7 linked regions of the Homo sapiens genome follow. The protein of the gene in region 5 interacts with the protein of the main gene of each other region in a pairwise test. Each region holds a gene or a part of one and is shown on either strand. Other genes may lie near its edges. The genes, in order: UBQLN3, NUP43, CAPN15, ZBTB16, HEXB, XIAP and RWDD4.

Region 1 (4,187 bases), on a different chromosome or scaffold from region 5:
CATACCTGTGAGTCTTCTAACTTCAGACCTTTTAGTTTCCCTCCAAGTCCTTCCATCCATGTAGAGACAGCCCTTATCACTACTTCTTCTCCCATATCCATCCTTTTTCTCATAGCCCACATGAATGAGACTCAGGCAAGAGTTCACATTGGAAATTGGGTGTAATTGCATCTCAAGATAGGCATAAGCAGAGCTTAGACTGGGGCCCCCCAGTGGTATAGTGGTACAAGTGGTTGACTCACACACAGCACCTCCACTATGTTTTGGCCATTAGTCTTCCTCGTTGACTCTGGAACAACATTGCCTCCACAGCAAAGGACTTCATAGTAAATTTGGTTTATAATGCAGCTGTATTCAAAAATGGGAGAGCTAGGGAACTAGGATATGGGAAAAAGGCACAGAGGAAAACGTATGGTTTGAATGAATAAGGCTCCTACGACTGTCTCAGCTTCTCCACAGCAGCATCCACGTCGCCCCCCGTAGCAATGAGGGCCTGAAGATTGGCTTCACGATTCAGAAAGCCCATGGACCGCAGTTGCTCCAGCTGCACCTGAAAGTGAGCCTCAGGCTGCAGCTGCTGGGGATTTGTACTAACTAAATCTTGCAGCATATGGAGAAAGGGAGGGGAAAGGAAGCCCAGCTCTGCAGAGTCCAGTGCTGGGAACACCTCAGGAGGTGGATTTGGGAGAGGATCCTCAGACATAAGGGGATCTTCTCTAGACTCTATACCTCCTGCCACACTACCCGTCCCTGCTAGGCAAGGCATGAACCAGAGTAGGAGGCGAGGTGCTTCAGTAGCTAGGACCTGTAGACCCTGCTCAATCTGCCGCAGGGCTTGCAGGGCACGGGGGTTTGCCATGGCTGCCTGAAGGTGCATCAGCAGTGGCAGCTGTGGTTGTATCTCATCCTGTAACTGTGGAGCTGGATTCATGCCATCTGGCCTCAGAGATCTTGGATAAGCCGGGGATGGCAGCCAGGGAGGCTCAGGGATTCCAGGAATGGCTGCCGTGGGGGAAAAAGATAAGGGAGCAAATGGAACCCTGTTGGCAGAATCTCCCAGCCCCGAGACAAGATCAGGCAAGTTTGTGCTATGTCCAGTAGAGCTTTTCCCTGCACCATCTTGGTCTCCACCTTGTCCAGTACTGTTCTCTGTGGGGTATCTCAGGAAAGCTGGGCAGGAGGACCTTCCCTTGATTGCTACTGACTCCTCGGGGAGAGGCTGGCCTGACCCAGGCTCCTGAGATGAGGGTGACGATGGGGGAACTCTGTTTACTGATGGTGGTGGTTCCTGGCTTTGGCTGAGGGCAGATGCAGTCCCCTGTAGATAAGTTCCTAGGGACTGGGGGTTCTCGTGTAATTGCTGGAGATAGTCATAGAGCCTTATAATACCCAGAAAGTTTGGAAACCTATTTCTAATGTCAGGTGCATCCTGATCCCCATCCTGCCTTCCTTGCCTGCTACCTGAGCCTCCATGTGTGGAAGTCCAGGGGTTGGGGAGAGGGTCACAATTCTCCATCCTTGAAGGTTGGCTGGTGGTGGTGGTGGCATTATCAGTAGTGGCAGTGGCAAAGGGATTGCCGCCAAACTGCTCCTGGACTGCGTTAAGCATTGGGTCCATAATATCTGTGTACATAGTGCAAAGCACATTGTAGCCACCAGGAATGCTCTCCAAGTTACTGAGCACCCGGTCCTGGCTACGTATCATCTCCTGCATCATGGCAGGGTTACGTAAAAACTCCAGTGTCTGCCGCATAATTTCCGGGTTGTTAAGAATATGCCCAATCTCAGGGTTGTGCTGGATCAGCTGCTGCATATGGGGGTTGTCAAGAACCAGCTGGCGTACTAGGCCTGTGTTGGACAGCAGACCCGGGATGAAGGGGTCATCAATGAGCTGAGTCACAAACTCAGGCACAGACACATGCTGCCGCATCAGGGAGCTTGGCTGGTCAGGGAAGCCACGATAGGCCAAGCCCAGCCTACTGAGGCCTGTGAGGAGACCTAAGCTAAAGGCAGGGGGCCCATCTGCTGGGTAAATGGAGCTTGGCTGAGGGAGTGATCCAGGACTTGGGCCCTGGGTAGGGACAGAGGCAGCTGGGCACTCATTGCCCATGGCACGGTGCTGCCTCTTGATGACCAGGTGGACAGTGAGGCCATCTCGCACTCCACACTGTGCCAGTGAGTCAGGATCCTTGAGGATTTTGCCAGCAAAGATTAGAACAAGCTGATCGGGGTGGGCCTTAAAGCGCTGAGATATCTCTTCCTTCAGCTGCTGGATAGTGCATGTGTCTGTAACTGAGAAATCCTCCTTGTCTTTGGGCGTCTTCACTGTCACCTTGATGAGGTGGGGATCCTGGACTGGTGCTGGGCTGCCCTGTGGCAGGGCTTCTCCACCTTTGGCCATGGTGGCAGCAGGAGGCCCAGATCTGTGGGGACACAGCTAGGGGCATGGGGATTGGAGACCAAGATCATCCTTTCAGGCAATGGCAAAAGTAGGAAGGGTGAGTATGAAAAGGGTCTTGAATATCAGGATAGGGAAATCTGCAGGGTCTACATGAAAGGGGCCATGAGGTTTCTGGGGCAGGATGCTTTAGGAAGATTGCGGGATTGAGATATGTTGGAATCAGGGGAGGGAAATGCAGGGCCCTGGGAAAGAGGTCTGTAGTTGATGAATACAGGGACAAAGGTAGAAGGAAGGGCCCAGCTGGGGTGTACATACCAGTCAGCTGTGGTCCCGTCCTTCTCTTTATGCAGGGCTCCAAACCTCCCTCATCTTGCTACACAGCCACCCCTGAGGCCTTCTGGGCCAGAACCCGCACTATCAGGTCCCTTCTGTGACCTCAGTGCTGACGTCACAGCCTCACACAGAGAAGATTCTTGAGACTTCTCTAAGGAGCTCGGGATCCCTGGGAACTCTTGCTCTCCCATCTTTTACCACTTCTACTTCCTCCACCTCAAGTGCCTTCCTGTGGAGACTTCTGTGGAGGCTCAGACTGGGATTGGAATGTTATAAAACATCTCTCAGTCCTCTCTGTCTCCATTCAGACCCACATTCAGCTACTTCCTGGTCCAGGGTCTTCTTCCTGGTATCCTATGTCCCAGTTTTCTGTCTTATTCAACATTAACCATGAATTCTTTACGTATTTTCAAAGTATTGATTCGCTGATGGATAGGATTTGGGGTATAAGGGAGGAGTCAAGCATGAGATAACTTTTTTTTTACTTTAAAAGAAATTGTTATCCCCAAAGGAACTCAAAGGATTGAATATTTACTAAGACAAAGATTGGGAATAAGCACTTTGTCTAAATTAGCAGGTTGTTAAACAGTTTTACATACATTTGAGATGTCTATTTTACATACAAATGGAGATGTAGTATTGTAGTTTAATATTATAAGTCCAGAGTTTATTAGCATTCAAAGGGTACTTAACATCATGGACTGGTTTAGATTAGCTAGTTAGTGCATACAGGCAAAATGATAGAGATTTTAAAATCTGAGTTTTGTGGCTGTATAACATTTAGAAATCTGGAAGATCAGAAGAATTTGGCAAAGGAAACGGAGAAAAAATAAAAGAGTAAGGTAGAAAAAAAGAGAGAGAAAAGAGAAAGGCCAAAGGAAGAAGAGTTTCAAAAAGGAGAGAGTAACCAATCATGTGAAATGATGCTGCTAGGTCAGGAGGATGAGGATTGAGAATTGGCCACTGGATTTGAAAAAATAAAGAATTGGAGACCATGATGAGACTAGCTTTGGAAGGATAGTAGAGGCAGGAAGCCTAATCAGAGTGTGTTTAAAAGCAAATGGTTTGGGAAAAAGTAGATCCAGTTAGGGCATTTTAAATGCAAGAAAGGGGATGACGGCTATGTGGGGATGTGGGGTTAAAGGCTTTTTAGATTTTTTTCTTAAGAATAGTGTAATGATGTTTATATTCTGATAGAAACAATCCAGTGAGTAGAAAAAATTGATGCATGAGAAAGGGAAAACTATTAAGTTCTTGAATAGATAAGTTAGAGAGATTGGGAGCAAGTGCCTATGTGGAGAGCTTGATTTAGGAATATGAAGTTTATTCATGATAGCAGAATGAATGGGAGGCAGAGTGTATTGGGACAGTTGTAAGCTAGTTGGTTGATTTCATGGTAGACACAGGTAGAAGTCCCTTCTGATTATTACTGTCTTTCTTGTTGAAATAAGCA
Region 2 (3,500 bases), on a different chromosome or scaffold from region 5:
ATCTCAGCACTTCGGGAGGCCGAGGTGGGCAGACCACTTGAGCCCAGGAGTTTGACACCAGCCTGGGCAACATGGTGAAACCTCGTTTCTACAAAAATTAGCTGGGCATGGTGGTGTGCATCTGTAGTCCCACATCCCTGGAAGGCTGAGGTGGGAGGATCGCTTGAACCTGGGAGGCAGAGGTTGCAATGAGCTGGGATCATGCCACTGCACTCCAGCCTGGGTGACAGAGCAAGACCCTGTCTCAAAAAAAAAAAAAAAAAAAAAAAAAGTAATGCAACTTAACTCAGAAATGAAAATCATAATAAACAACACAAAAGGCCAGGTACAGTGGCTCACGCCTGTAATCCCAGCACTTTGGGAGGCCGAGGCAGGCGAATGACAAAGTCAAGAAATCAAGACCATCCTGGCCAACATGTTGAAAGCCTGTCTCTACTAAAAATACAAAAATTAGGTGGGTGTGGTGGCGTGCGCCTGTAGTCCCAGCTCCTCGGGAGGCTGAGGCTGGAGAATCGCGTGAACCCAGGAGGTGGAGGTTGCAGTGAGCTGAGGTCGTGCCATTGCACTCCAGCCTGGTGACAGAGCGTGACTCCATCTAAACAAACAAACAAACAAAACACACACATACAAAATGGATTCATGGGCTCAATTCCTAGAGATTCTGATTTAAAAGGTCTAGAGTGGTCGACAGTTAAAAAATTTCCTCAGAGAAGTCTGGCTGAAGCATAGTTCAGAACCAATACACTTAGTTTTCCACCTAAAAGATGTAACTTCTGTGATTTTGCATTACAGACTCTTTGCAATCTGGCCCCAGCTTACTTCTCTCTTGCTTCATCTTTCATCTCTCCTAAATAAATATCTAAAGTCGGGTCAAACTATACTTTTTGTCATTCTCTGAATGTCTTTATCCTGCCTCTGGCCTATTCCCTTTGTCTAGCACGCCATCTTTTAGTATTACTTATGGTCTAGAACCTAGAAAAACTATTAATTACTACCTGCTTCCAGATGTTTTATCTGATAATGCCCTCTCACCAAAAAAAAAAAGGTTTCTGTTTCCTCTAGTCAGTCATTCATACTGGTCTCATCAACATACTGTCTTGACAAAGGGATCCTGCCTTGCGTTGTGTGTGCACATGTGTACATATATTTTATATTTTTTTGAGACAGAGTCTTGCTCTGTCACCCAGGCTGGAGTGCGGTGGCATGATCTCGGCTCACTGCAGCCTCTCAGTCTCTCAGGTTCAAGCGATTCTCATGCCTCAGCCTCCCAAGCAGCTGGGATTACAGGCCTGTGCCACCATGCCCAGCTAATTTTTGTATTTTTAGTAGAGATGGGGTTTTGCAATATTGGTCAGGCTGGTCTCAAACTCTTGGCCTCAAATGATCTGCTCGCCTTTGCCTCCTAAGGTGCTGGGATTATAGGCGTCAGCCACTGTACCCGGCCATATATTTTTACATCCCTCCATCACTTAACATTGTGTTTACTTTTTTTTTTTAGATGAAGTCTCTCTCTGTCACAAGGCTAGCGTGCAGTGGTGTAATCTTGGCTCACTGCAACCTCTGCCTCCCGGGTTTAAGTGATTCTCCTGCCTCAGCCTCCCGAGTAGCTGGGACTACAGATGCACACCACCTCACCCAGCTTATTTTTGTTATTTTCAGTAGAGACGGATTTTCACCACGTTGGCCAGGATGATCTTGATCGCTTGACCTTGTGATCCGCCTGCATCACCCTCCCAAAGTGCTGGGGTAACAGGCATGAGCCACCGTGCCTGGCAGTATTTACTTAGTATATGGTAAGTGCTCAATTACTCTGATGGATGAAAGGAGTACAATGATTTTTCTTTTTTTGAAACAGGGTCTCCCTCTGTCACCCAGGTGGGACTGCAGAGTGCCATCATAGCTCACCACAACCTCCACCTCTCAGGTTCAAGCGATTCTCCTGCCTCAGCCTCCTGAGTAGCTGGGATTACAGGCATGCGCCACCACGCCTGGCTAACTTTTCTTTTTTTTTTTTTAAACAGAGTTTCACTTTTGTTGCCCTGGCTGGAGTGCAATGGTGCGATCTCTGCTCACTGCAACCTCCGCCTCCCAGGTTCAAGCGATTCTCCTGCCTCAGCCTCCCAAGTAGCTGGGATTACAGGCATGTGCCACCATGCCCAGCAAATTCTGTAGTTTTAGTAGAGACGGTGTTTCTCCATGTTGGTCAGGCTGGTCTCGGACTCCCGACCTCAGGTGATCCACCTGCCTCGGCCTCCCAAAGTGCTGCAATTGCCGGGGTGAGCCACCACACCCAGCCTAACTTTTGTATTTTTAGAAGAGACTAGGTTTCGCCATGTTGGCCAGGCTGGGATTTTTCTTACCTATGGTTCTTACAGCTTCCTTGTGATCAGCTCTGAAGAGATTTATTCGACCATCCTCTCCAACTGTAACGATTTCTGGGTTGTTGCACACAACACCTGTACATGGTGCACTGCTATAGGAAGGACTGCCAGGGCCTGTGTGGTAGTGAGCTGTAGTCCACTGCTGGTTGACTGACAGAGTCTAGGCATCAGAAATGAGGATACTATTAAAGCAAAGTACTAAGGAATTAGCACTTCTTCCCAACAAGAGTATCTTTAAATTCTGACTCACACCCTTCTACAAGAATAAATCTCTCCTTTTTCCTTTAGAATAATGAAATCTAGAAACTACTGCCATCAAAGTTCTATATACACTGAATTAGATACAAAAGGAATATTGTTTAATAATGCCCCACATTTATCTCAAACTACAGTAATGACTTTTAGGGATCAAGCAGTTGGATGTTCAAAGGCAACTCTTTGTATTCTTATGGGAATTAACCTACATCTAAAATATACATATCTGGCCCACGGCTGTCGCTCATGCCTGTAATCCTAGCACTTTGGGAGGCCAAGGCAGGCAGATCATCTGAGATCAGGGGTTCGAGACCAGCCTGGCCAATATGGCAAAATCCCGTCTCTACTAAAAATACAAAAATTTGCTAGGTGTGGTGGCACGCGCCTGTAATCCCAGCTACTTGAAAGGCTGAGGTGTGAGAATTGCTTGAACCAGAGAGATGCAGGTTGCAGTGAGCAGAGATCGCACCACTGCACTCCAGCCTGGGTGACAGAGAGAGACTCTGTCTCAAAAAAAAAAATAAATAAATAAAATAAAATAAAATAAATAAAATATTAATCTCTATAGCTTTTTCTAAATGACTCAAAAAAACCCTTAACATGAACTGGGACTTATATTAACTAGGCATGTCTATTAGAAAAGGTTACCTTTGGCTGGGCGCGGTGGCTCACACCTGTAATCCCAGCACTTTGGGAGGCCGAAGAGGGCTGATCACCTGAGGTCAGGTGAGATCAGCCTGACCAACATGGAGAAACCCCGTCTCTACTAAAAATATAAAATTAGCCGGGCGTGGTGGCACGTGCCTGTAATCCCAGCTACTTGGGAGGCTGAGGCAGGAGAATCACTTGAACTCAGAAGGTGGA
Region 3 (3,500 bases), on a different chromosome or scaffold from region 5:
TGCATGCTCTCCCTGCGCCTCAGGGGCGCGGCCCCCCGCCGCTGGGCCACCAGGAGCTGAGGCGTGTGGCAGGCGGCGCAGTGCTTGGCCCGCAGTGCGTTGAGCAGGGTACAGGCAGGGCAGGCCCACTGGCCCGGGCGCTCGGGCAGGACGCGGGCGGCCTTCTGGGCCGAGGACACCCGTCCGCAGCTTCTGCCGCAGGGGCTGGGCTTGTCGGCCCCACAGTCGGGGCAGTGGGTGGGGGGCTCGCCATGCTCCTGGAAGCCGTGCAGTTTGGAGCAGCCGCAGGCCGAGCACCTGGGGGCCACTGTGGGGTTTCTGAGCGTGCACTTGGCACATGACCAGGTGGTGAAGTCGGGGCTGGAGGGGCTGGCGGGCGTGTAACGCACGGTGTCTCCGGCCAGGTCAATGATGTCACTGCCCGAGGTGGAGCTGCCGGCCTCTACGCGGCTGGTGCCACCCTCCGTGGCCTCTTCCTCCAGCACACTCAGCCGCTTGCCAGACAGCAACTCTGCTAGGCGGGAGGCCCCAGCCCAGCCCGAGCCCTGGGGGGCTCCCCTGCAGCCGGCAGAGGGTGACGGCTGGGCAGCCTCAGGCACCGGTGGCTGCAGCTGGGGGGGAACCTCGCGTCGGCTGCGCGGCACGGGGTTGTTCTGCAGGGTGGACGAGAAGGGGCTGAAGGGCGGGACCCTGGGCGGCTCTGGTTCGGCAGCTGGGCCCTGGCTGGTGGCTGGGGGGTTGGCCTCGGCACCTTCCCCGGGGAGGCCAGGTGGAGGCGCGGCAGGCACGACGTGGAAGCCGGCCGGGGCCACCACTTCCGGGACCACCAGGGCCTCAGGAGGGATCCGTGGCAGCGAGAGCCTGCGTGGGCCCCCGCAGACGGAGCAGGAGCTGGCCACGGGCGTGTTGTGCAGCGTGCAACGCGGACACGCCCAGCCCCCTCTGGGCTCCGCCGCTCCCTCCTCCTCCTCCTGCTCCTCCTTCTCCTCCTCGTCCTTGTCCTCGCACTGCCCCCTGGCGGGCTCCGTGGCCACCAGCCCCGCAGTCCTCACTGGACCTGCTTCCTCCTGGCAGCTGCCCTTGGGCTCCCCCAGGATGGCGGGTGGCTTGGGGAGGACCCCGTTGAGGACTGGCAGGAAGGCAGCCCCAGGCGCAGGCTCCGGGGTGAAGCCGCACACCTCGCAGGCCTCCTTGCCCAGGAAGTTGCGGAAGGTGCAGCGGGCGCAGGGCCATTTCTGCTCCTCCACGCTGAGCCGCAGGATGTGGTTGAGGTCGGGCTTGTGCCGGGGAGCCTCGCAGATGGAGCACTGGCGCTGGCCGGCCGGGTTCAGGAAGGTGCAGCGCACACAGGACCACTCTCCGACCGTGGCCATAGACCCGGGCGAGTGGGTGTGGCTGCAAGGGAAGGTGCTCATCAGGGCCACCCTGTGAGGTCCTGAGTGGCTGGACCCCACCCTCCTCTCGGCCTGGGGAAGGCACCCGTCTGTGGCTGCAGAGCTACGGGGCCGAGGGCCTAGGGCTGAGCATTTGAGGCAGGCGGCGGTGGGGGCTGCCTCCACCCAGAATGGATCCATGGCTCAGGGCCCCTCTTGCCCGTTGGAGGCTCAGCAGACCCCTTGAGCCACACAGGATCCTACAGAGAGGGCTGAGCACCCCACAGCCGGGCTGCTGTTCCAGGGCACTGCTTTCTCTGTCACCAGGCCTGTGGACGGCAGATAGCAGGGGGTCCCGGCCAAACTCAGGACCAGGTCGTCCTGGGCGTGGAAGAACAGGTGCTCAGACCTACGGAAGGGCAGGTGCATGGGCCGGGGCCTGGGGAAGGCACAGGCTGATCTGAGCAAGGGGCCTCCCCACACCACAGCACAGCCTCCGAGACAGACTGGCTGCTCTGCCTGGCAGAAAAATCAATTGTTCTTGTAAATATGGCCTGAATCTTGTGCTCCATCTAAACCCTTTTGGTTCAGGAAGAAAGAAAACCTGCCTCTTCATAAGAAGCACAAAAACAAAAAGTCTCCGCGAGCAACACGGGTGTTCTGTGGAGCCGAGCGAACTCCGTGATGCTGCCTTCCCTGCGCTCAGCCCCGCGTGGCGAGGGCTCTGAGCTGCCCCTGGCAGAGTGGACGGGGGTGGACTGGGCCCGGCGAGGCTCAGGGCGTCCAGCTGGAGCAGAGAGACCCAAGGCCGGGAATCTGCTCTAACAGCGGGCTTCTGTGAAAGCCCAAGCAATCTGCCCGTAGACAGCCAGGCCTCTCCCCGCCATCACCACTCGGAGAAGGGCATGGATGCAGCTGTGGCCGGCGGGCTCCCGGCCGCACCTGCACGTTCCTCGGCCTGGCTGCCGAGGCGGCACAGCCCAGGCGTCCGGCCTGGGCCCCTGTGGGTGGCACAGTGGCCATGATCTTTGCAGCCCCCACTCCGGGAGGTGCCTTCACAGACTCTGCACCCCGCTGACCGCAGGTGCAGGCAGAGGTGGGCTGGGCCTCCTGGGACACACCCTCCCTTTGGCCCTGTAGTTGTCACCGACTAGCAAGGACAGCCTCACCAGCTCCAGAGAGGAGAATGAGAACCCGGGTCCCCAGGACCAAACAATCGCCAGCGGGGTGTGTCTGCTGGGAGACACCTTTCGGAGTCATCCTGGCAAAACCCAGGTGGGTCAGGAAGACGTCTGCACTTCAGGAGGGTTTCAATGAAGTCAGAACAAGGCCTAAAGTTCAAACGTGGCCCCGGGACACGGGTGAGGAGGGCGAAGGCAGGCCACGGCCCTTCTGTGGCTGGAGACGCTGAGGGGAGTGTCACTGACCCCGCAGTCTGCGCTGTGCCGGCCTCTCTCGGTGGGCCGAGGTGGAAGGGGGCCAGGGGTCAGGGGTCAGCGGTGGGAGACCTCGGCAGGGCCCCCACCCTCCCTGCCCTTCTGCCCTGGTTCTGGTCTCCACAACCCCCCAGCCACTCTAGGGCCACCCTCACCTCTGCAGGGCCTGGGCAGGTTCATGGGCTCAGAGACCCGAAACCCTTACAAAGATGTTGTTTTGAACTTTAGAGATGGGGTCTGATTGCCCAGGATGGTGCAGTGGCTCGCGCACGGCTCACTGCAGCCTTGACCTCCTGAGGCCAGACCGCCAAAGCCTGGAAGTAAAAGCTCGCGTCAGGAGCCCAAAGACCCAAAGCCAGGCCTGAGCGAAGCCCTTTTGGAATTCTCAACCCAGAACGCTCCTGAAGTCGCAGCCACACGTGCTCAGCAAGGAGCCCTCACTACTGCAGGATGGTTACCTTCGAAGGGAGCGGGCTCAGGGCAGACGACGTGAGGGGAGACGACGACGTGGGGGGAGACGACGACGTGAGGGGAGGCGACGTGGGGGAGGCGACGTGGGGGAGGCGACGTGGGGGAGGCGACGTGGGGGAGGCGACGTGGGGGAGACGACGACGTGGGGGAGACGACGTGGGGGAGGCGACGTGGGGGAGGCGACGACGTGGGGGAGGCGACGTGGGGGAGGCGACGTGGG
Region 4 (3,500 bases), on a different chromosome or scaffold from region 5:
AATAGGAAATTCTTGAGTCTGCCCAGGGAAAAGAATAAAAAGAACTTAGAAGGAAAAACAAACAACAACAAAAAAAAAAGAAAGAAAAAGTCACCAACACACACGTATCCCCATCCCGATTTGGAAGCACGGTGTGCACCTGGCGTGAAATCTTCACCCTGAGAGCTGATTGTGTCAGTGTGGCCATAATGTACACAAAACTGGCTGCAGAACTCAAAATCCAATTTGTGGTATGTTGATTAACTCTGTAGCCTCTTTAATGAGCTTGACATTAAGTGCAGGACAAACGAGACTAATTAGAGCCCCCTCCAGCCTGCCCAGTGCACCTGTGACCCCGCCCCCCCCAATCTGTCCTTACTTGGTGCTTTCTCTGGCACTGGCCAAGCCCAGTGTCTGTCGTCCTCCCCACCCCAGCCCCATCCTGCTGGCTCCTCAGGCCCCTCCCTTCCAGCCCCTCCCTTCAGCACAGCTGAGAGTTTATTATATGATGAGCCGTGTGAATCAGGGATCCATCAATGCCAAGAGCACGGCTGGACTAACCTACCAAACACAGCTGCTGATGCTAAACACCCGGCCCCAGCAGCAAATGGGCCAAGAACAACGGAATATTAATGAGGCATTGTGTGTGGGGTGTGCACAGCCTGTATATGGCTTGTGTGCGCAGTGCCTCGCTGGTGTGAAAATTGATGGGTGTTTCTCTGTGTGTGCATAGGCAGCACACATGCTCCGTGTTTCCTAGAATAAGCAAGGGCTTCTCCCTAACTCTGGAAACAGCCCCTCCCCGTGGATCTGAGCCATGACTGACACAAGAGCATGTGACATTTTCATATCTGAGCTCTGAGAAGGTGGCATGGTCAGAGCAGGGCACATCCTGGGTGGATTTAGCAGGACTGAGATCATTCAAGTCACATGAAGCCAACTGATTGGACCCAGTGGCATGCTCAGAAGTGGCTGAAAGGTATCTAGCCATCTTTCATAAGACCGAATGAACCTGGGGAACTGTTGAGGGAGGCGTTCATAGGAAGGTGCATATAGCTGCAGGGGAAATGCTTACGCAATCGCTGTAGAGAAAGTCCTTGTCAACATCCCACTCTCCTGGGCCCTTTTTATTGAGCCCACCCCTCTGGGCCCTACCTCCGTCCTGTCCCAGAAATTTTAAGTAGTTCTGTGCAAATCTGGTGATGCTAAGACAATGTGCTCCCCTGAACAAAATGGCATCCAGAAGTGACAGCCAGGAAGGCTCCTTAATGAGGATACCTGCTGCTGGCTGGCCAGGCCAGCTCAGTCCATGAGAAGTAAAGCTCTTCCCTTATTTAGCAGAGCCTGCCACCCATGCAAGACCTGGTCTGCATACTCAATCTCTGAGCTGTGACAAGACTCTCAAAATGAGGAGAGGGCCTACTGTTCCTTTACGTGGCATGCAGAGGTTTTTACAAGTATACGCTCTGTTATATACCCAGATAGAGACCTGACCCCAACCCTCCCTACAAACACAGCACACAAAGGCAGACTCAGAAATGGGCATTCCTTTAACCAGGTAGTTTCAGCAGAGCCCCAGTTTTGTCATAGAGAAAATAAGGAATTTAAGCCATCCACTCCCCTGTTAGGGAAAACTGGGAGCTGCTGCAGGAAAGCAAATGCCTCTTGGCCATCAGGGACCAAGTGTCCCCATCCCTCAAGCCCTAGAGGCTGGTGGCAGGGAATGGCCAGCCCCTCAGCACCTGGCCCAGCCTCCTTACCTTGTACCCCCTCCCTTGTCCCATCACCTGGAACTGGCTGAGCAGTGATATTTCATTGCTCATCGTTTAAATGCCCTCCTTGTCTTCCCTAAACAGGGTTAAGGTCCAAGTACAGGCCTTTGTTACTGTGGGGAAAGTAGGATCACTGCTTCAACTTGCCCTCAGAAGCCCGAAGCTGACTTCAGAAATGTGTATGGATAGAGCGGCGGGGCATCAAGAGTGGTGGGAGGCAGGGCAGACAATGTTAAGAGACCCAGCAGGTCAGTTTTTCTCAAAATTCATTTTGGGTCTACCTACATGAGAATCCCTTGGGAATACATATTAATAATGCTGAATCTGGGACCCCACCCTGGACCCATGGAATAAAAGGTTCTGAGAGTGGGACCCAAGAGCCTGCCTTTTTAATGAGCATCCTGTGTTGAACACGGAAAGACTTTGAACCGACGGTCCACAGGAGGGGACTGGGAGAACTGTCCACATTTACCTGCACGACGGGCAGCCTCTGCACGTCCAAGCCTTGAGCAGAAGGACTGAAGGCTGACTCAGCCCACCACCTCCACTTTACGTCCTTGGAGGTAAATATAGACGCTGGCTCCCAGAGACCCAGATCCACCCATCAGCTGGACTGACCTACCTGTATGTGAGCGCAGGTGGCGTTTGAGAGCCGTGTGGCTGGGGAAGGTGCGGTTGCACTCACTGCAGATGTAGCTGCGCACGCCCGCGTGGACCTCCATGTGCTGCTGCAGTGCGCTCTGCGCCTGGAAGCGCTTCCCACACAGCAGACAGAAGACGGCCATGTCAGTGCCTGTGGGAGACAGGAGAGGGGGTGCCTCAGAAAGGTGGGAATACAAGGTGCATTCTTTACCCATCTGGAGTGAGAGCCAGTGTCGGGACTCACACCTCCAAATCCCCATGCTCAGGGGCAAATCCAGAGTGGGCCCAGGCTATGCAACACTGAGCACCCAGTATGTGGCCCCAGTGATGGGCAAAATCGACGTCGTTCCCGAGCTCTGGAAGCTAAAGCTAAAGGATAGACATTGATCAAATACATCGCAGCAGCAAGGGTAGTGGGCAACTGTGTCGGGTGGTATGTAAAAGGCGGCAAGGTACTAAGACAGCATATACCAGATGGACTTCACAGAGTACAGGGCAAAAAGTGGGGGAGGCAAGGTAGACCCTGCGAGAAAAAACAATAACAAAGATACTATGGGCCAGCCATTGTTCTAACATAACTAATATAAATCCAAAACTCAAAAAGCTAGCCTCTGTTATCCTCATCCCTTAGACAAGGAGACTGAGGCACAGAGAGATTAAGTACTTTGGCCAAAATCCCACAGAGCAGTGGTCCCCAACATTTTTGGCACAAGGGACTGGTTTCATGGAAGGCAATTTTTCCACGTATGGTTGGGGGATGGCTTTGGGATGATTCAAGCACATTACATTTATCATTAGACTCTCATAAGGAGTGTGCAGCCTGGATCCCTTGAATGCACAGTTCCCAATAGGGTTCATGCTCCTGTGAGAATCTAATGTCGCCACTAATATGACAGGAGGCGGAGCTCAGTTTCACTCGCTCGCCTCCTGCTGTGCAGCCCAGCTCCTCACAGACCATGGCCCGGGGGTTGGGGACTCCTGCCATAGAGTTCGTAAGTGGCAGGGCTGGGGTTCACACTCACACACCCTAGATTTTAATGCTTTCCCAAGACTAGCTACAGATCCTGTTTTGTTTTTTTTTTTTAACTACTTCTCCACTCACTAAAG
Region 5 (2,778 bases):
ACAGTAACCCACAACACTTGGACCAACTGCTTCACTTACCGCCAAAATCAAGAGGTTCCACTTTATAGTATTTCCTCCAATCTTGTCCATAGCTAATCAAATCTAAGTACCAAGGAGCAGAAAGGATTACAGGGAAGCCAGATGCTGTGACTCTACTGAGTTCCTCAGGATATGCGCTGTCTTTCCATACTTCAACTATTGTGCCCGGCGCAAGCTATTAACGTTACAAATTGCAATACATATTATTAGGCCTAGAACAGTAGATGAAATTGAAAGTTTAAGGCATTATTACTAGGAACATAATTTTCTAAGATCCTTAAAAAAAATCTGCATTTTCTTTTTCCTCTTTTCTTCAGAGTTAGTGCCATGTGATACTCATTTTAGGGACTTAAAAGTTTCATCAACCTTAGGTTTGAATATTTAACTTTTGCTTATATATGGATACCACATAGGTTCAGTTAACTAAAGCTGAGACTTGCATTTTAGTCTTATTTCTACCAAACCTAGCTTGGAACTATGAGGTCCAAAGTGGTCACTAACTACACTAGAAAGGTAATACTAGTAGTTAGACTTGCAAATTCCCAGTTGCCCCAAGAAAAATAATTAAGTCTCTTATATTGATCAGATGCAGTCTTCACAATGCTCACCTTTGCTTTATCATCAAAAACCTCCTGCCAGACAATGGATCCCTTGTTTATGGTTGCAATAATATCCAAAACCCTAGTATTACAAAAAAATTATAGTTATTTTAGATCATAAGCTTAACAATATATTTAAAACATGTACATTTTCTACCAAGGATTTCTTGCATTTTGAGAGGTGCCTTTTAGTATAGTTCAGCTTTATAGCAGAAGCAGCTCAAGTTGGGAAGTGTCACAAGTAGTTCCTCCTTTTTAGCACTTGATACAGAACCTAACATAGTATGGGGGTTTAATAATCATTTGCTGAATGAATGAGTTAAACATGCCCCTAAGATAGGAAGAAGTGGCCTCAAATTGAGTTGGTAGGCAACTCAGGAAATTGTACAAACAGCAATCTCTTACAATTTTATGGCTGTCTTAAAATGGTAGGGACCACGATCTAGCCTGTCATATCACATAAATTACATGTAACAGTTACTGACAATCCACAAATATTTACAGATATTTACATAATGCCAGGTGCTCTGCAGATAAATAACACTTAAATGCATCACACAAAAAGCTGAACAGGCAAAGGCTGGAATCTGGGCTTGCCAAATAAATGGTACAGCATAAGGGTTGGCAACTACAGCTTGCAGGCTGTTTTTGTATGTCTCATGGGCTAAGAATGGTTTTTATATTTGTAAAGCATTTTTTTTTAAGTTTTAAAATTTGAGGTTTTTTTTAAGTTAAAAAAAAATTGTATGTGGTCCATGGGCAATTGTATGTGGCCCATGAAGCCTAAAATCTTTACTCTCTGACCCTTTACAGAAAAAGTTTGCCAATCCCTCTAGAGCAGCACGGTCTAGTAGAACTTCCTGGGATGGAAATGTGTATATATATATATATATATGCATTTTTCAGTATGGCAGTCACTAGCCTCAGCTGGCTACTGAACACTTGACATGTGGCTAATGCAACTGAGTAGCTGAATTTTTAACTTTCATTAATTTTAATTAATTTACATATGGACAGACACCTGTGGCTATGGCTACTGTATTGGGTAGCACAGGTATATAGTAAAATATATGTTCCTGGAATTGACAAAATGGAATGAATTCCAGGGGCTGGATGGTAGTGAAGACTTCACAGGGTAGCCAGGGCTTCAAGCTGAGTTTTATATTTATTGATGGATTGATTGATTGATTGATTGAGACAGTCTCACTCTGTTGCCCAGGCTGGAGTGCAGTGGTGCGATCTTAGCTCACTGTAACCTCCATCTCCCAGGAGATTCTCCCTCAGCCGCCCGAGTAGCTGGGACTACAGGCACCTGCCACCATGCCTGGCTAATTTTTTCATTTTTAGTAGAGATGGGATTTCACCATGTTGGCCAGGCTGGTCTCGAACTCCTGGCCTCCGGTGATCCACCTGCCTCGGCCTCCCAAAGTGCCGGGATTACAGGTGTGAGCCACCATGCCCAGCCCAATCTGAGTTTTTAGAACAGATGACTGCCTTCCTATATTTCAACAGCTATTGGAAAATACTTGGAGTCACCATGTTACTGATTTAAAGCAAGCAGTGGGTATTGCCTCCTTTAGTGATTTTTCACATCTACACTTAGGCAAAGGATGTAGAGAAAATGTAAAAAATAAAGCACATTACTAAATAAACTTTTACAAAAAGCATTAATACAGAAATAGGCTTTCAAACAACTTACTTTTGAATGTAGAAAGATTCTAGTTTCTTAAAATCTGTGCCAAAGCCTTTTTGCCTCATGAAATCTTGAATTTTTGGATTTGATTCCCTGAAGCAAAAAGTGATTAAAATTTCATTAGAAGTTTGATATGCTCAGTTTATTATTTAGAGCAGTATACATGCCTAACATCAGTTGTGCAGACTTAAAACTATTAAAGTTTGTAGGTAGTAAAAAGAAGCCTAAAAACTTAATTACAAGTTATCTTAATTATCCATTGCAAACAATTTTTTCAAGAAGCTGATTTCCTTTAAAAATGGCTTTCTTTACCTTACCACCTTTCTCCTCCATCTAAAGCTATTTGCAGAGAGAATTTTTATTTGAAAAATCTTTCCTATTTAATCATTGATTGCCCTCTTTCACTAAAGGTGTTCTCATTTCACAGTAGTCTTTTTTTGAATCTCC
Region 6 (3,500 bases), on a different chromosome or scaffold from region 5:
AGACTGAATCTAATCCTGCACTTTTTTCTCCTGTATTGGTTAATAGTACCACAGTTCACAAGGTTGCCCAGTAATTTATGTTGTTCCTAAGCTCTTTGCTCTCTGTAATCCTTTTACATTTAATTAATCATCAAATTTGATGGATTCCACCTTTTTAATGTTGCTTCAGACTTTCCCACTTATTCTGCTCTAGTTCAGGCCCTTCCTTGTTTTTCAACTGGACAATTGTAGTAGTCTCCTAACTGGTCTTTTGTCTGTATTATAACCTGCCAACAGAGTTTTTCTTTTTGTTTGTTTGTTTTTGTTTGTTTTGTTTTTTTGTTTTTCTGAGACGGAGTCTCGCTCCGTCACCGAGGCTGGAGTGCAGTGGCGCGATCTCGGCTCACCGCAACCTCCACCTCCGGGGGTCACGCCATTCTCCTGCCTCAGCCTCCTGAGTAGCCGGGACTACAGGCGCCCACCACTATGCCCGGGTAATTTTTTTTTTTATTTTTTGGTATTTTTTGCAGAGACGGGGTTTTGAACTCCTAGGCTCAAGCGATCTGCCCGTCTTAGCCTCCCGAAATGCTGGGACTACAGACGTGGGCCACCATGCCCAGCCTTATCTTTTATTTTTATTTTTTAATATAGATAGGGTCACACTTTGTTGACCAGGGTGGTTTCAAACTCCAGGCCTCAAGGAATCCCCCTTGGCCTCCCCAAAGTGCTGGGATTACAGGTGTGAGCCACTGCACCCAGCCTCCTCTCTTTCAAAAAACATTTATTGAGCTATAATATACATACAGTAGCCGGGCGCAGTGGCTCACGCCTGTAATCCCAGCACTTTGGGAAGTTGAGGCAGGTGGATCACGAGGTCAGGAGTTCGAGAGCAGCCTGGCCAATATAGTGAAACCCCATCTCTACTAAATATACAAAAAAATTAGCCAGGCGTGGTGGTGCATGCCTGTAATCCCAGCTACTCGAGAGGCTGAGGCAAGAGAATTGCTTGAACCTGGGAGGTGGAGGTTGCAGTGAGCCGAGACGCGCCATTACACTCCGGCCTGGGTGACAGAGCGAGACTACGTCTCAAAAAAAAAAAAAAAAAAAAAAAAAATATATATATATATATATATATGATTTTATATATATATGATTTTATATATATATGATTGTGTATATATATATGATTTTGTATATATATATGATTTTGTATATATATATGATTTTGTATATATATGATTTTGTATATATATATGATTTTGTATATATATACACACGCACACATACACACATAAAGTGCTTAAAGTACCCTAATCGTAAGTTTTCTACTTGATGAATTTTAACATATATATGTTAAAATATATATTAAATATGTGTTAAATATATATTAAAATGTATATGTTAAAATATATATATTTATCTGTGTGACTATCCCCCAGATTAAGATATAGAACATTCCCACAACCCTAGAAAGTTCTTTCATGCTCCTTCCCCATCAGTACCCACCCCCAAGTTATATTCTGGCTTCTATTACCATAGATTAATTTTGTTTATTACCATAGATTAGTTTTGAAGTTCTTATAAATGGACTCATGCAGTAGGTACTCTTTTGTGTCATAATGATGAATTATGATTATGTTTTGCTCATTATATCTATGAGATCCATCCATATTGTCTGTGGCAATAGTTTTTTTTTTTTTTCTTGCTGTGTAGCGTATGAATATACCACAATTTATGTATCTGTTCACCTGATGATGGACATTTGAGTTGTTTCCAGTTTGGGGCTATTATAAATAACACTACTATGAATACTCTTGTGCATATCTTTGGCAGAGATATACACTCATTTTTAATACCCAAGAGTGGAATTGATGAGTCAGAGGGTATAAGTGTCCTCTCCTAGCACTTCCCTACACATGCTGTGTTCCTACTTTAAGTATCATAAAAACAAGTTTCCATTGACTTTCTTGCTTTATTCAGTCCTACCCGCTCTGCTACAGAAACGAAGTTTGAGAGCTAGGAAATTGACACATTCAAGGTTATAGACTGGGACTTCCCTGATTTCCCATCATTTTCCCCAAATAATTGCTAGTGACTCAGTAACAACATCCACTCTTTAAGTAACTTAGGTTAATTGTTAATGAGTACAGCTAGATTCAAAACAGTTCAGATTTTTGAAGCACTTAACCTTTTTCTTGCCTATTTTACCTTGCATCGTTTCAAACACTACAAAATACATACTCATTGCATTTACAATTAATTGTAAGATTCTGAAAGTGATTTTTCAGTGCCTGAATACTTCAAAAAATCTTCCCAAAGCAGCTTTGCTTTGCTGGTTTGTTTTTATTCTTTCGCTTGCTCCTTAATTTTTTCATTTTAACTATATTTTGCTATTGAGTTGTGATAATGAAAATAATTGTTTAAATTCTATGTTCTTTTTCCTCACCAATTTTTATTTCAGATGATACCATCTTCCAAAATCCTATGGTACAAGAAGCTATACGAATGGGGTTCAGTTTCAAGGACATTAAGAAAATAATGGAGGAAAAAATTCAGATATCTGGGAGCAACTATAAATCACTTGAGGTTCTGGTTGCAGATCTAGTGAATGCTCAGAAAGACAGTATGCAAGATGAGTCAAGTCAGACTTCATTACAGAAAGGTATGCATTGCTGTTTTTAAAAAGCAAGAAAGGGCCAGATGTGGTGGCTCATACCTGTAATCCCAGCACTTTGGGAGGCTGGGACAGGTGGATATGGACATTTTTTAAACGTAACCTTAATGCTGTGTGTTAGTCTGCTCAAGCTGCTATAATAAAATTCCATAGACTAGGTGTCTTAAACAACAGACTTATTTCTGACAGTTTTGGAGGCTCCAAAATCAAGGTGCTGGCTGATTTGGTTATTGATGAGGGCCCTCTTCCTACCTTGCAGATGGCTGCCTTCTCACTGTGTCCTCACATGGCATGGGTTGGGATTGGATGGGACAAGATGGAGCAAGTACTCTGGTCTCTTTTCCTCTACTTTTAGGAACACTAATCCCATCATGGGGGGGTCTCATCTTCATGACCTCATCTAAACCTAATTACTTCCCAAAGGCCTCATTTCCAAATATCATTACATTAATCATGGAAAAAAGATTAAAAATATGAGTTCTACCAGCCTGGACAACATAATGAAACTGTCTCTACAAAAAATACAAAAATTAGCCGGGCATGGTGGTGTGTGCCTGTAGTCCCAGCTCCTTGGGAGGCTGAGCGGGGAAGATCACCTGAGCCAGGGAGGTCAAGGCTGCAGTGAGCCATGATCATGCCACTACACTTCGGCCTGGGCAACTGAGCAAGATCTTGTCTCAAAATATATGTATCTCTCCTTTAAGGATGATGGACACTGTAGTGCTTGCCAACAACATCGAAGGTTAAAGAAGAAGTTTCAAACTGAGTACACTTTTGGGTACTTTACCTGTAATAGTTCTCTAAGCTCTTGACCATCCTCCCTCCAAAAAGATGAGAATTCTCCTAC
Region 7 (3,500 bases), on a different chromosome or scaffold from region 5:
TGTAGTCCCAGCTGCTCAGGAGGCTGAGGCAGGAGAATCGCTTGAATCTGGTAGGCAGAGGTTGCAGTGAGCCGAGATAGTGCCACTGCACTACAGCCTGGCAACAGAGCAAGACTCCATCTCAAAAAAAAAAAAAAAGAAAGAAATCCTCCCACCTCAGCCACTCAAGTAGCTGGAGCTACAGGCGTGTGCCCCATGCCAGACTTTAAAAAACTTTCTGTAGAGACAAGGTCTTCCTATGTTGCCCAGGCTGGTCTCGAACTCCTGAGCTCAAGTGATCTTCCTGCCTCAGCCTCCCAAAGTGCTGGGATTATAGATAGGCATGAGCCACTGTGACTGGCTTCCCCTGCCTTTTAAGCCAAAAAGAATACAGGCTAGTTTTCTTGTATAATGTCCCCAGATCTGAACTGATTCAAATTAAACATTTTTGGTAAGAAAACTACAGAGGTGATGTGGCATCTTCCCATAGCATCATATAAGGAGGCACAGAAGATCTTCCAGAATCATCACTGGTGACACTAAGATTGATCACATGGTTTAGGTGATCTTCTCCAGATCTCTTCAACACAAACCTTTTCATTTTGTAATTAAGGAATAATCTCGCTGGGTGAGGTGGCTCATGTCTGTAATCCCAGCTCTTTGAGAAGGTGAGGTGGGAGGATGACTTGAGGCCAGGAGTTAGAGACCAGCCTGGGCAACACAGCAAGACCCTGTCTCTATTAAAAAAAAAAAAATCATCATCGTCTGTGGGGCAACACTACAAAACTGTATGAATACCTTGTTTCTCAACAACCTTTCACCCAAAGGTTTTAGCCTTCATTAACAGTCCTTAACTGTAACTGAATCAATTATCATACTGGTGGTTGCAAAATGGTGATCTTCTAGTAAAACGGTGGAATGATACATGAATCAACATCTCATCCTTACACAGGGCTATGCTAATCTCCTCTGTATTGTTATTAAAATAAATGTAGGGATCTACTGATAGACCTGGATAAGGATTATCTGCATAATAGATGTCATTGGTTTATGTTTAAATATAGATGATAAAAAGTGATAAAAGTTACCTGCTTGATGCAATCACTACGTCCTTACTCATGGCGCATTTAGGAATAAATTATCACATGCCTCACACTGTGCTGGGTACCGAAGATACAAAGATAGAGACAAGGCTATTCCTGTCTTCAGACAGATATTTATATAACTTACAAAACTGCAATATGAATAATAGTTCAAAAGTAACAAAACAAAGTATGAAGAAATGGGGAACGGCTAATTCTGATTCAAAGTCAGAGCAGAGACAGGAGACATGGCCCAAATATTAATGTATCACAGAGAAGGCCTGAGTTAGGCCTTAAAGGAGAGGCAGGGGAATAATGGACCTGAGGTGAGAGAAAGATCAAACAATGTGTGCAAAAGCATAGTACTAGAAAAAAATACACGGGGGGAAATGTCACAACCCATTATGTCTAAGGCATGTGAGTGGAGGGGAAAGTTTGGAGACAGAAACAAACAGAAGGATTTGGAGTGTCAAGTGAAAAAATTTCGTCCTCATTTTATAGGCAAGAGGAACCCAGAGAAAAACATTTTTAAAGAAGAGAATGGGATGACAACTTAAATGCTTCAGAGTGCCAACTAGTACTGTTGGAGGACTCATGGTGGAGTATAAGGGGGAAGCTAAAGAAAGTATTAAACCGGGGAAGTCAACTAGGAGGCTACCAGACTATTCCGTGCAAGAACTGAGGGGTGTGACTCAGGCCACAGGAAGAACTTTACCCCTGGCCCTTTGACTATCAACACACTGTCTCCTAATCTCATGTATCATTCTTCTTAAATCCATCCTATGGGTCACGTCAGTGTCCATCTTATAGTACATATAAATGTCCTAGGGCATTCTGCACAACATGCTCTAAATCACTGCCATTGTGAATGAGATATTTAGGAGAGTATAGGGAAATTCTCGACCTCCCATTTGCTAAGGAGAGAGTAGCAACTGGATTCAAACCGAAGGGCCTAGGACTTAGCTCCACTGTTAACTTTGGACATTTGAGGTCCATGGTTATTACATACTTGGAGATGGTGTAAGGACTGTTAAGCTTGAAAGGGAATTGAGAACAGAAACTTATTTTCTGTGATGGTCATCCATCGATCATGCATAAGAATCATTTCTAATAGTTTAAACTGTGACAATGTTAATAATAACTGTAAATCTTTTACAAAAAAAACTTCCCCATTCCGCTACTTATAATTATTTGTGTGTTTTTTTTGTTTTTTTTTTTGAGTCCCGCTCTGTCGCCCAGACTGGAGTGCAGTGGCACAATCTCTGCTCACTGGAACCTCCGCCTCCTGGGTTCAAGTGATTCTCCTGCCTCAGCCTCCCAAGTAGCTGGGACTACAGGCATGCACCATCATGCGTGGCTAATTTTTGTATTTTTAGTAGAGACAGGGTTTCACCTTGTTGGCCAGGCTGGTCTAGAACTCCAGACTTGAGGTGATCCGCCTGCCTCGGCCTCTCAAAGTTCTGGGATTAAAGGTGTGAGCCACTGTGCCCCGCCTACTTATAATCATTTGAATAAAAGGTTTATATGACTTATTTACAAAATAAAATACTGTTACTATTTTTTTTTTGAGACAGAGTCTCGCTCTGTCGCAGTGGCTTGATCTCGGCTCACTGCAAGCTCTGCCTCCCGGGTTCACGCCATTCTCCTGCCTCAGCCTCCCGAGTAGCTGGGACTACAGGCGCCCGCCACCATGCCCGGCTAATTTTTTGTATTTTTAGTAGAGACAGTGGGGTTTCACCATGTTGGCCAGGATGGTCTCGATCTCCTGACCTCGTGATCCGCCCACCTTGGCCTCCCAAAGTGCTGGGATTACAGGTGAGAGCCACCGCGCCCAGCCCTACTGTTACTATTTTATGTTAAAGATAAGATTAAATAATTTTTAAGGTTTTTTCCATTTCTAGTATCTTATGATTCTGGTACAATAAAAACAAGTTTATCTTGGTTTTTTAAGCTTCTGAATTAAGTTTTCAAACGTTAAAAATGACTGATGTTAGGGTGATGTTTCCATTTAAATGCTACAGAAAATACAGACATAATAAATTTAAACAAGTTTAAAAAACAAAATAAGCATTTTTAGCCACTTTCAGTCTTTTCTAGAAAAGTTCTAAGTGCTCTTATTCATGCCATGTCTTACCCTATATTGAAAAGAAACTGGACTTAATTCCCGGAAACTTTCATCTCCTTCATAAATAGAGCGTAATGCTTCTAGTTCCATCTGAAATAAAGAACTGAATGAGTTTTGTTTAGTGGTATAAATGAATTAGAAATAGAGGGTCTTTACTTTCTCATTCAAGCCCACTCAACTATGTAAAAGCTTGACTAACTTATATAACCTTAGATACTTACCACATAGGTGCATGCAGCAACACATGACAATATTACTACCAATGATACTTACTTTCAAACTCTGTGTCAGGGACTACTAAGCACTGTACAATG

Evidence for each region.
Region 1: the proteins of HEXB (region 5) and UBQLN3 interact in binary tests that used the Homo sapiens proteins (3 or more experiments, as listed by UniProt).
Region 2: the proteins of HEXB (region 5) and NUP43 interact in binary tests that used the Homo sapiens proteins (3 or more experiments, as listed by UniProt).
Region 3: the proteins of HEXB (region 5) and CAPN15 interact in binary tests that used the Homo sapiens proteins (3 or more experiments, as listed by UniProt).
Region 4: the proteins of HEXB (region 5) and ZBTB16 interact in binary tests that used the Homo sapiens proteins (3 or more experiments, as listed by UniProt).
Region 6: the proteins of HEXB (region 5) and XIAP interact in binary tests that used the Homo sapiens proteins (3 or more experiments, as listed by UniProt).
Region 7: the proteins of HEXB (region 5) and RWDD4 interact in binary tests that used the Homo sapiens proteins (3 or more experiments, as listed by UniProt).

The regions. Positions count from the first base shown.
Region 1 is NC_000011.10:5,507,158-5,511,344, forward strand, and holds UBQLN3 (ubiquilin-3), read right to left. Parts: upstream 2,801-4,187; 5' UTR 2,717-2,800; intron 2,471-2,716; exon of another isoform or gene 2,438-2,470; 5' UTR 2,402-2,437; coding exon 434-2,401; 3' UTR 143-433; downstream 1-142.
Region 2 is NC_000006.12:149,740,030-149,743,529, forward strand, and holds part of NUP43 (nucleoporin Nup43), read right to left. Parts: intron 2,542-3,500; coding exon 2,361-2,541; intron 1-2,360. UniProt on the Homo sapiens protein: Component of the Nup107-160 subcomplex of the nuclear pore complex (NPC). The Nup107-160 subcomplex is required for the assembly of a functional NPC.
Region 3 is NC_000016.10:544,712-548,211, reverse strand, and holds part of CAPN15 (calpain-15), read right to left. Parts: exon of another isoform or gene 1,575-3,500; coding exon of another isoform or gene 1,374-1,574; coding exon 1-1,373.
Region 4 is NC_000011.10:114,241,211-114,244,710, reverse strand, and holds part of ZBTB16 (zinc finger and BTB domain-containing protein 16), read right to left. Parts: intron 2,545-3,500; coding exon 2,374-2,544; intron 1-2,373. UniProt on the Homo sapiens protein: Acts as a transcriptional repressor. Transcriptional repression may be mediated through recruitment of histone deacetylases to target promoters. May play a role in myeloid maturation and in the development and/or maintenance of other differentiated tissues.
Region 5 is NC_000005.10:74,716,233-74,719,010, reverse strand, and holds part of HEXB (beta-hexosaminidase subunit beta isoform 1 preproprotein), read right to left. Parts: intron 2,425-2,778; coding exon 2,338-2,424; intron 721-2,337; coding exon 648-720; intron 215-647; coding exon 40-214; intron 1-39. UniProt on the Homo sapiens protein: Hydrolyzes the non-reducing end N-acetyl-D-hexosamine and/or sulfated N-acetyl-D-hexosamine of glycoconjugates, such as the oligosaccharide moieties from proteins and neutral glycolipids, or from certain mucopolysaccharides.
Region 6 is NC_000023.11:123,898,053-123,901,552, forward strand, and holds part of XIAP (E3 ubiquitin-protein ligase XIAP), read left to right. Parts: intron 1-2,440; coding exon 2,441-2,641; intron 2,642-3,500.
Region 7 is NC_000004.12:183,652,686-183,656,185, forward strand, and holds part of RWDD4 (RWD domain-containing protein 4), read right to left. Parts: intron 3,290-3,500; exon of another isoform or gene 3,277-3,289; coding exon 3,196-3,276; intron 1-3,195.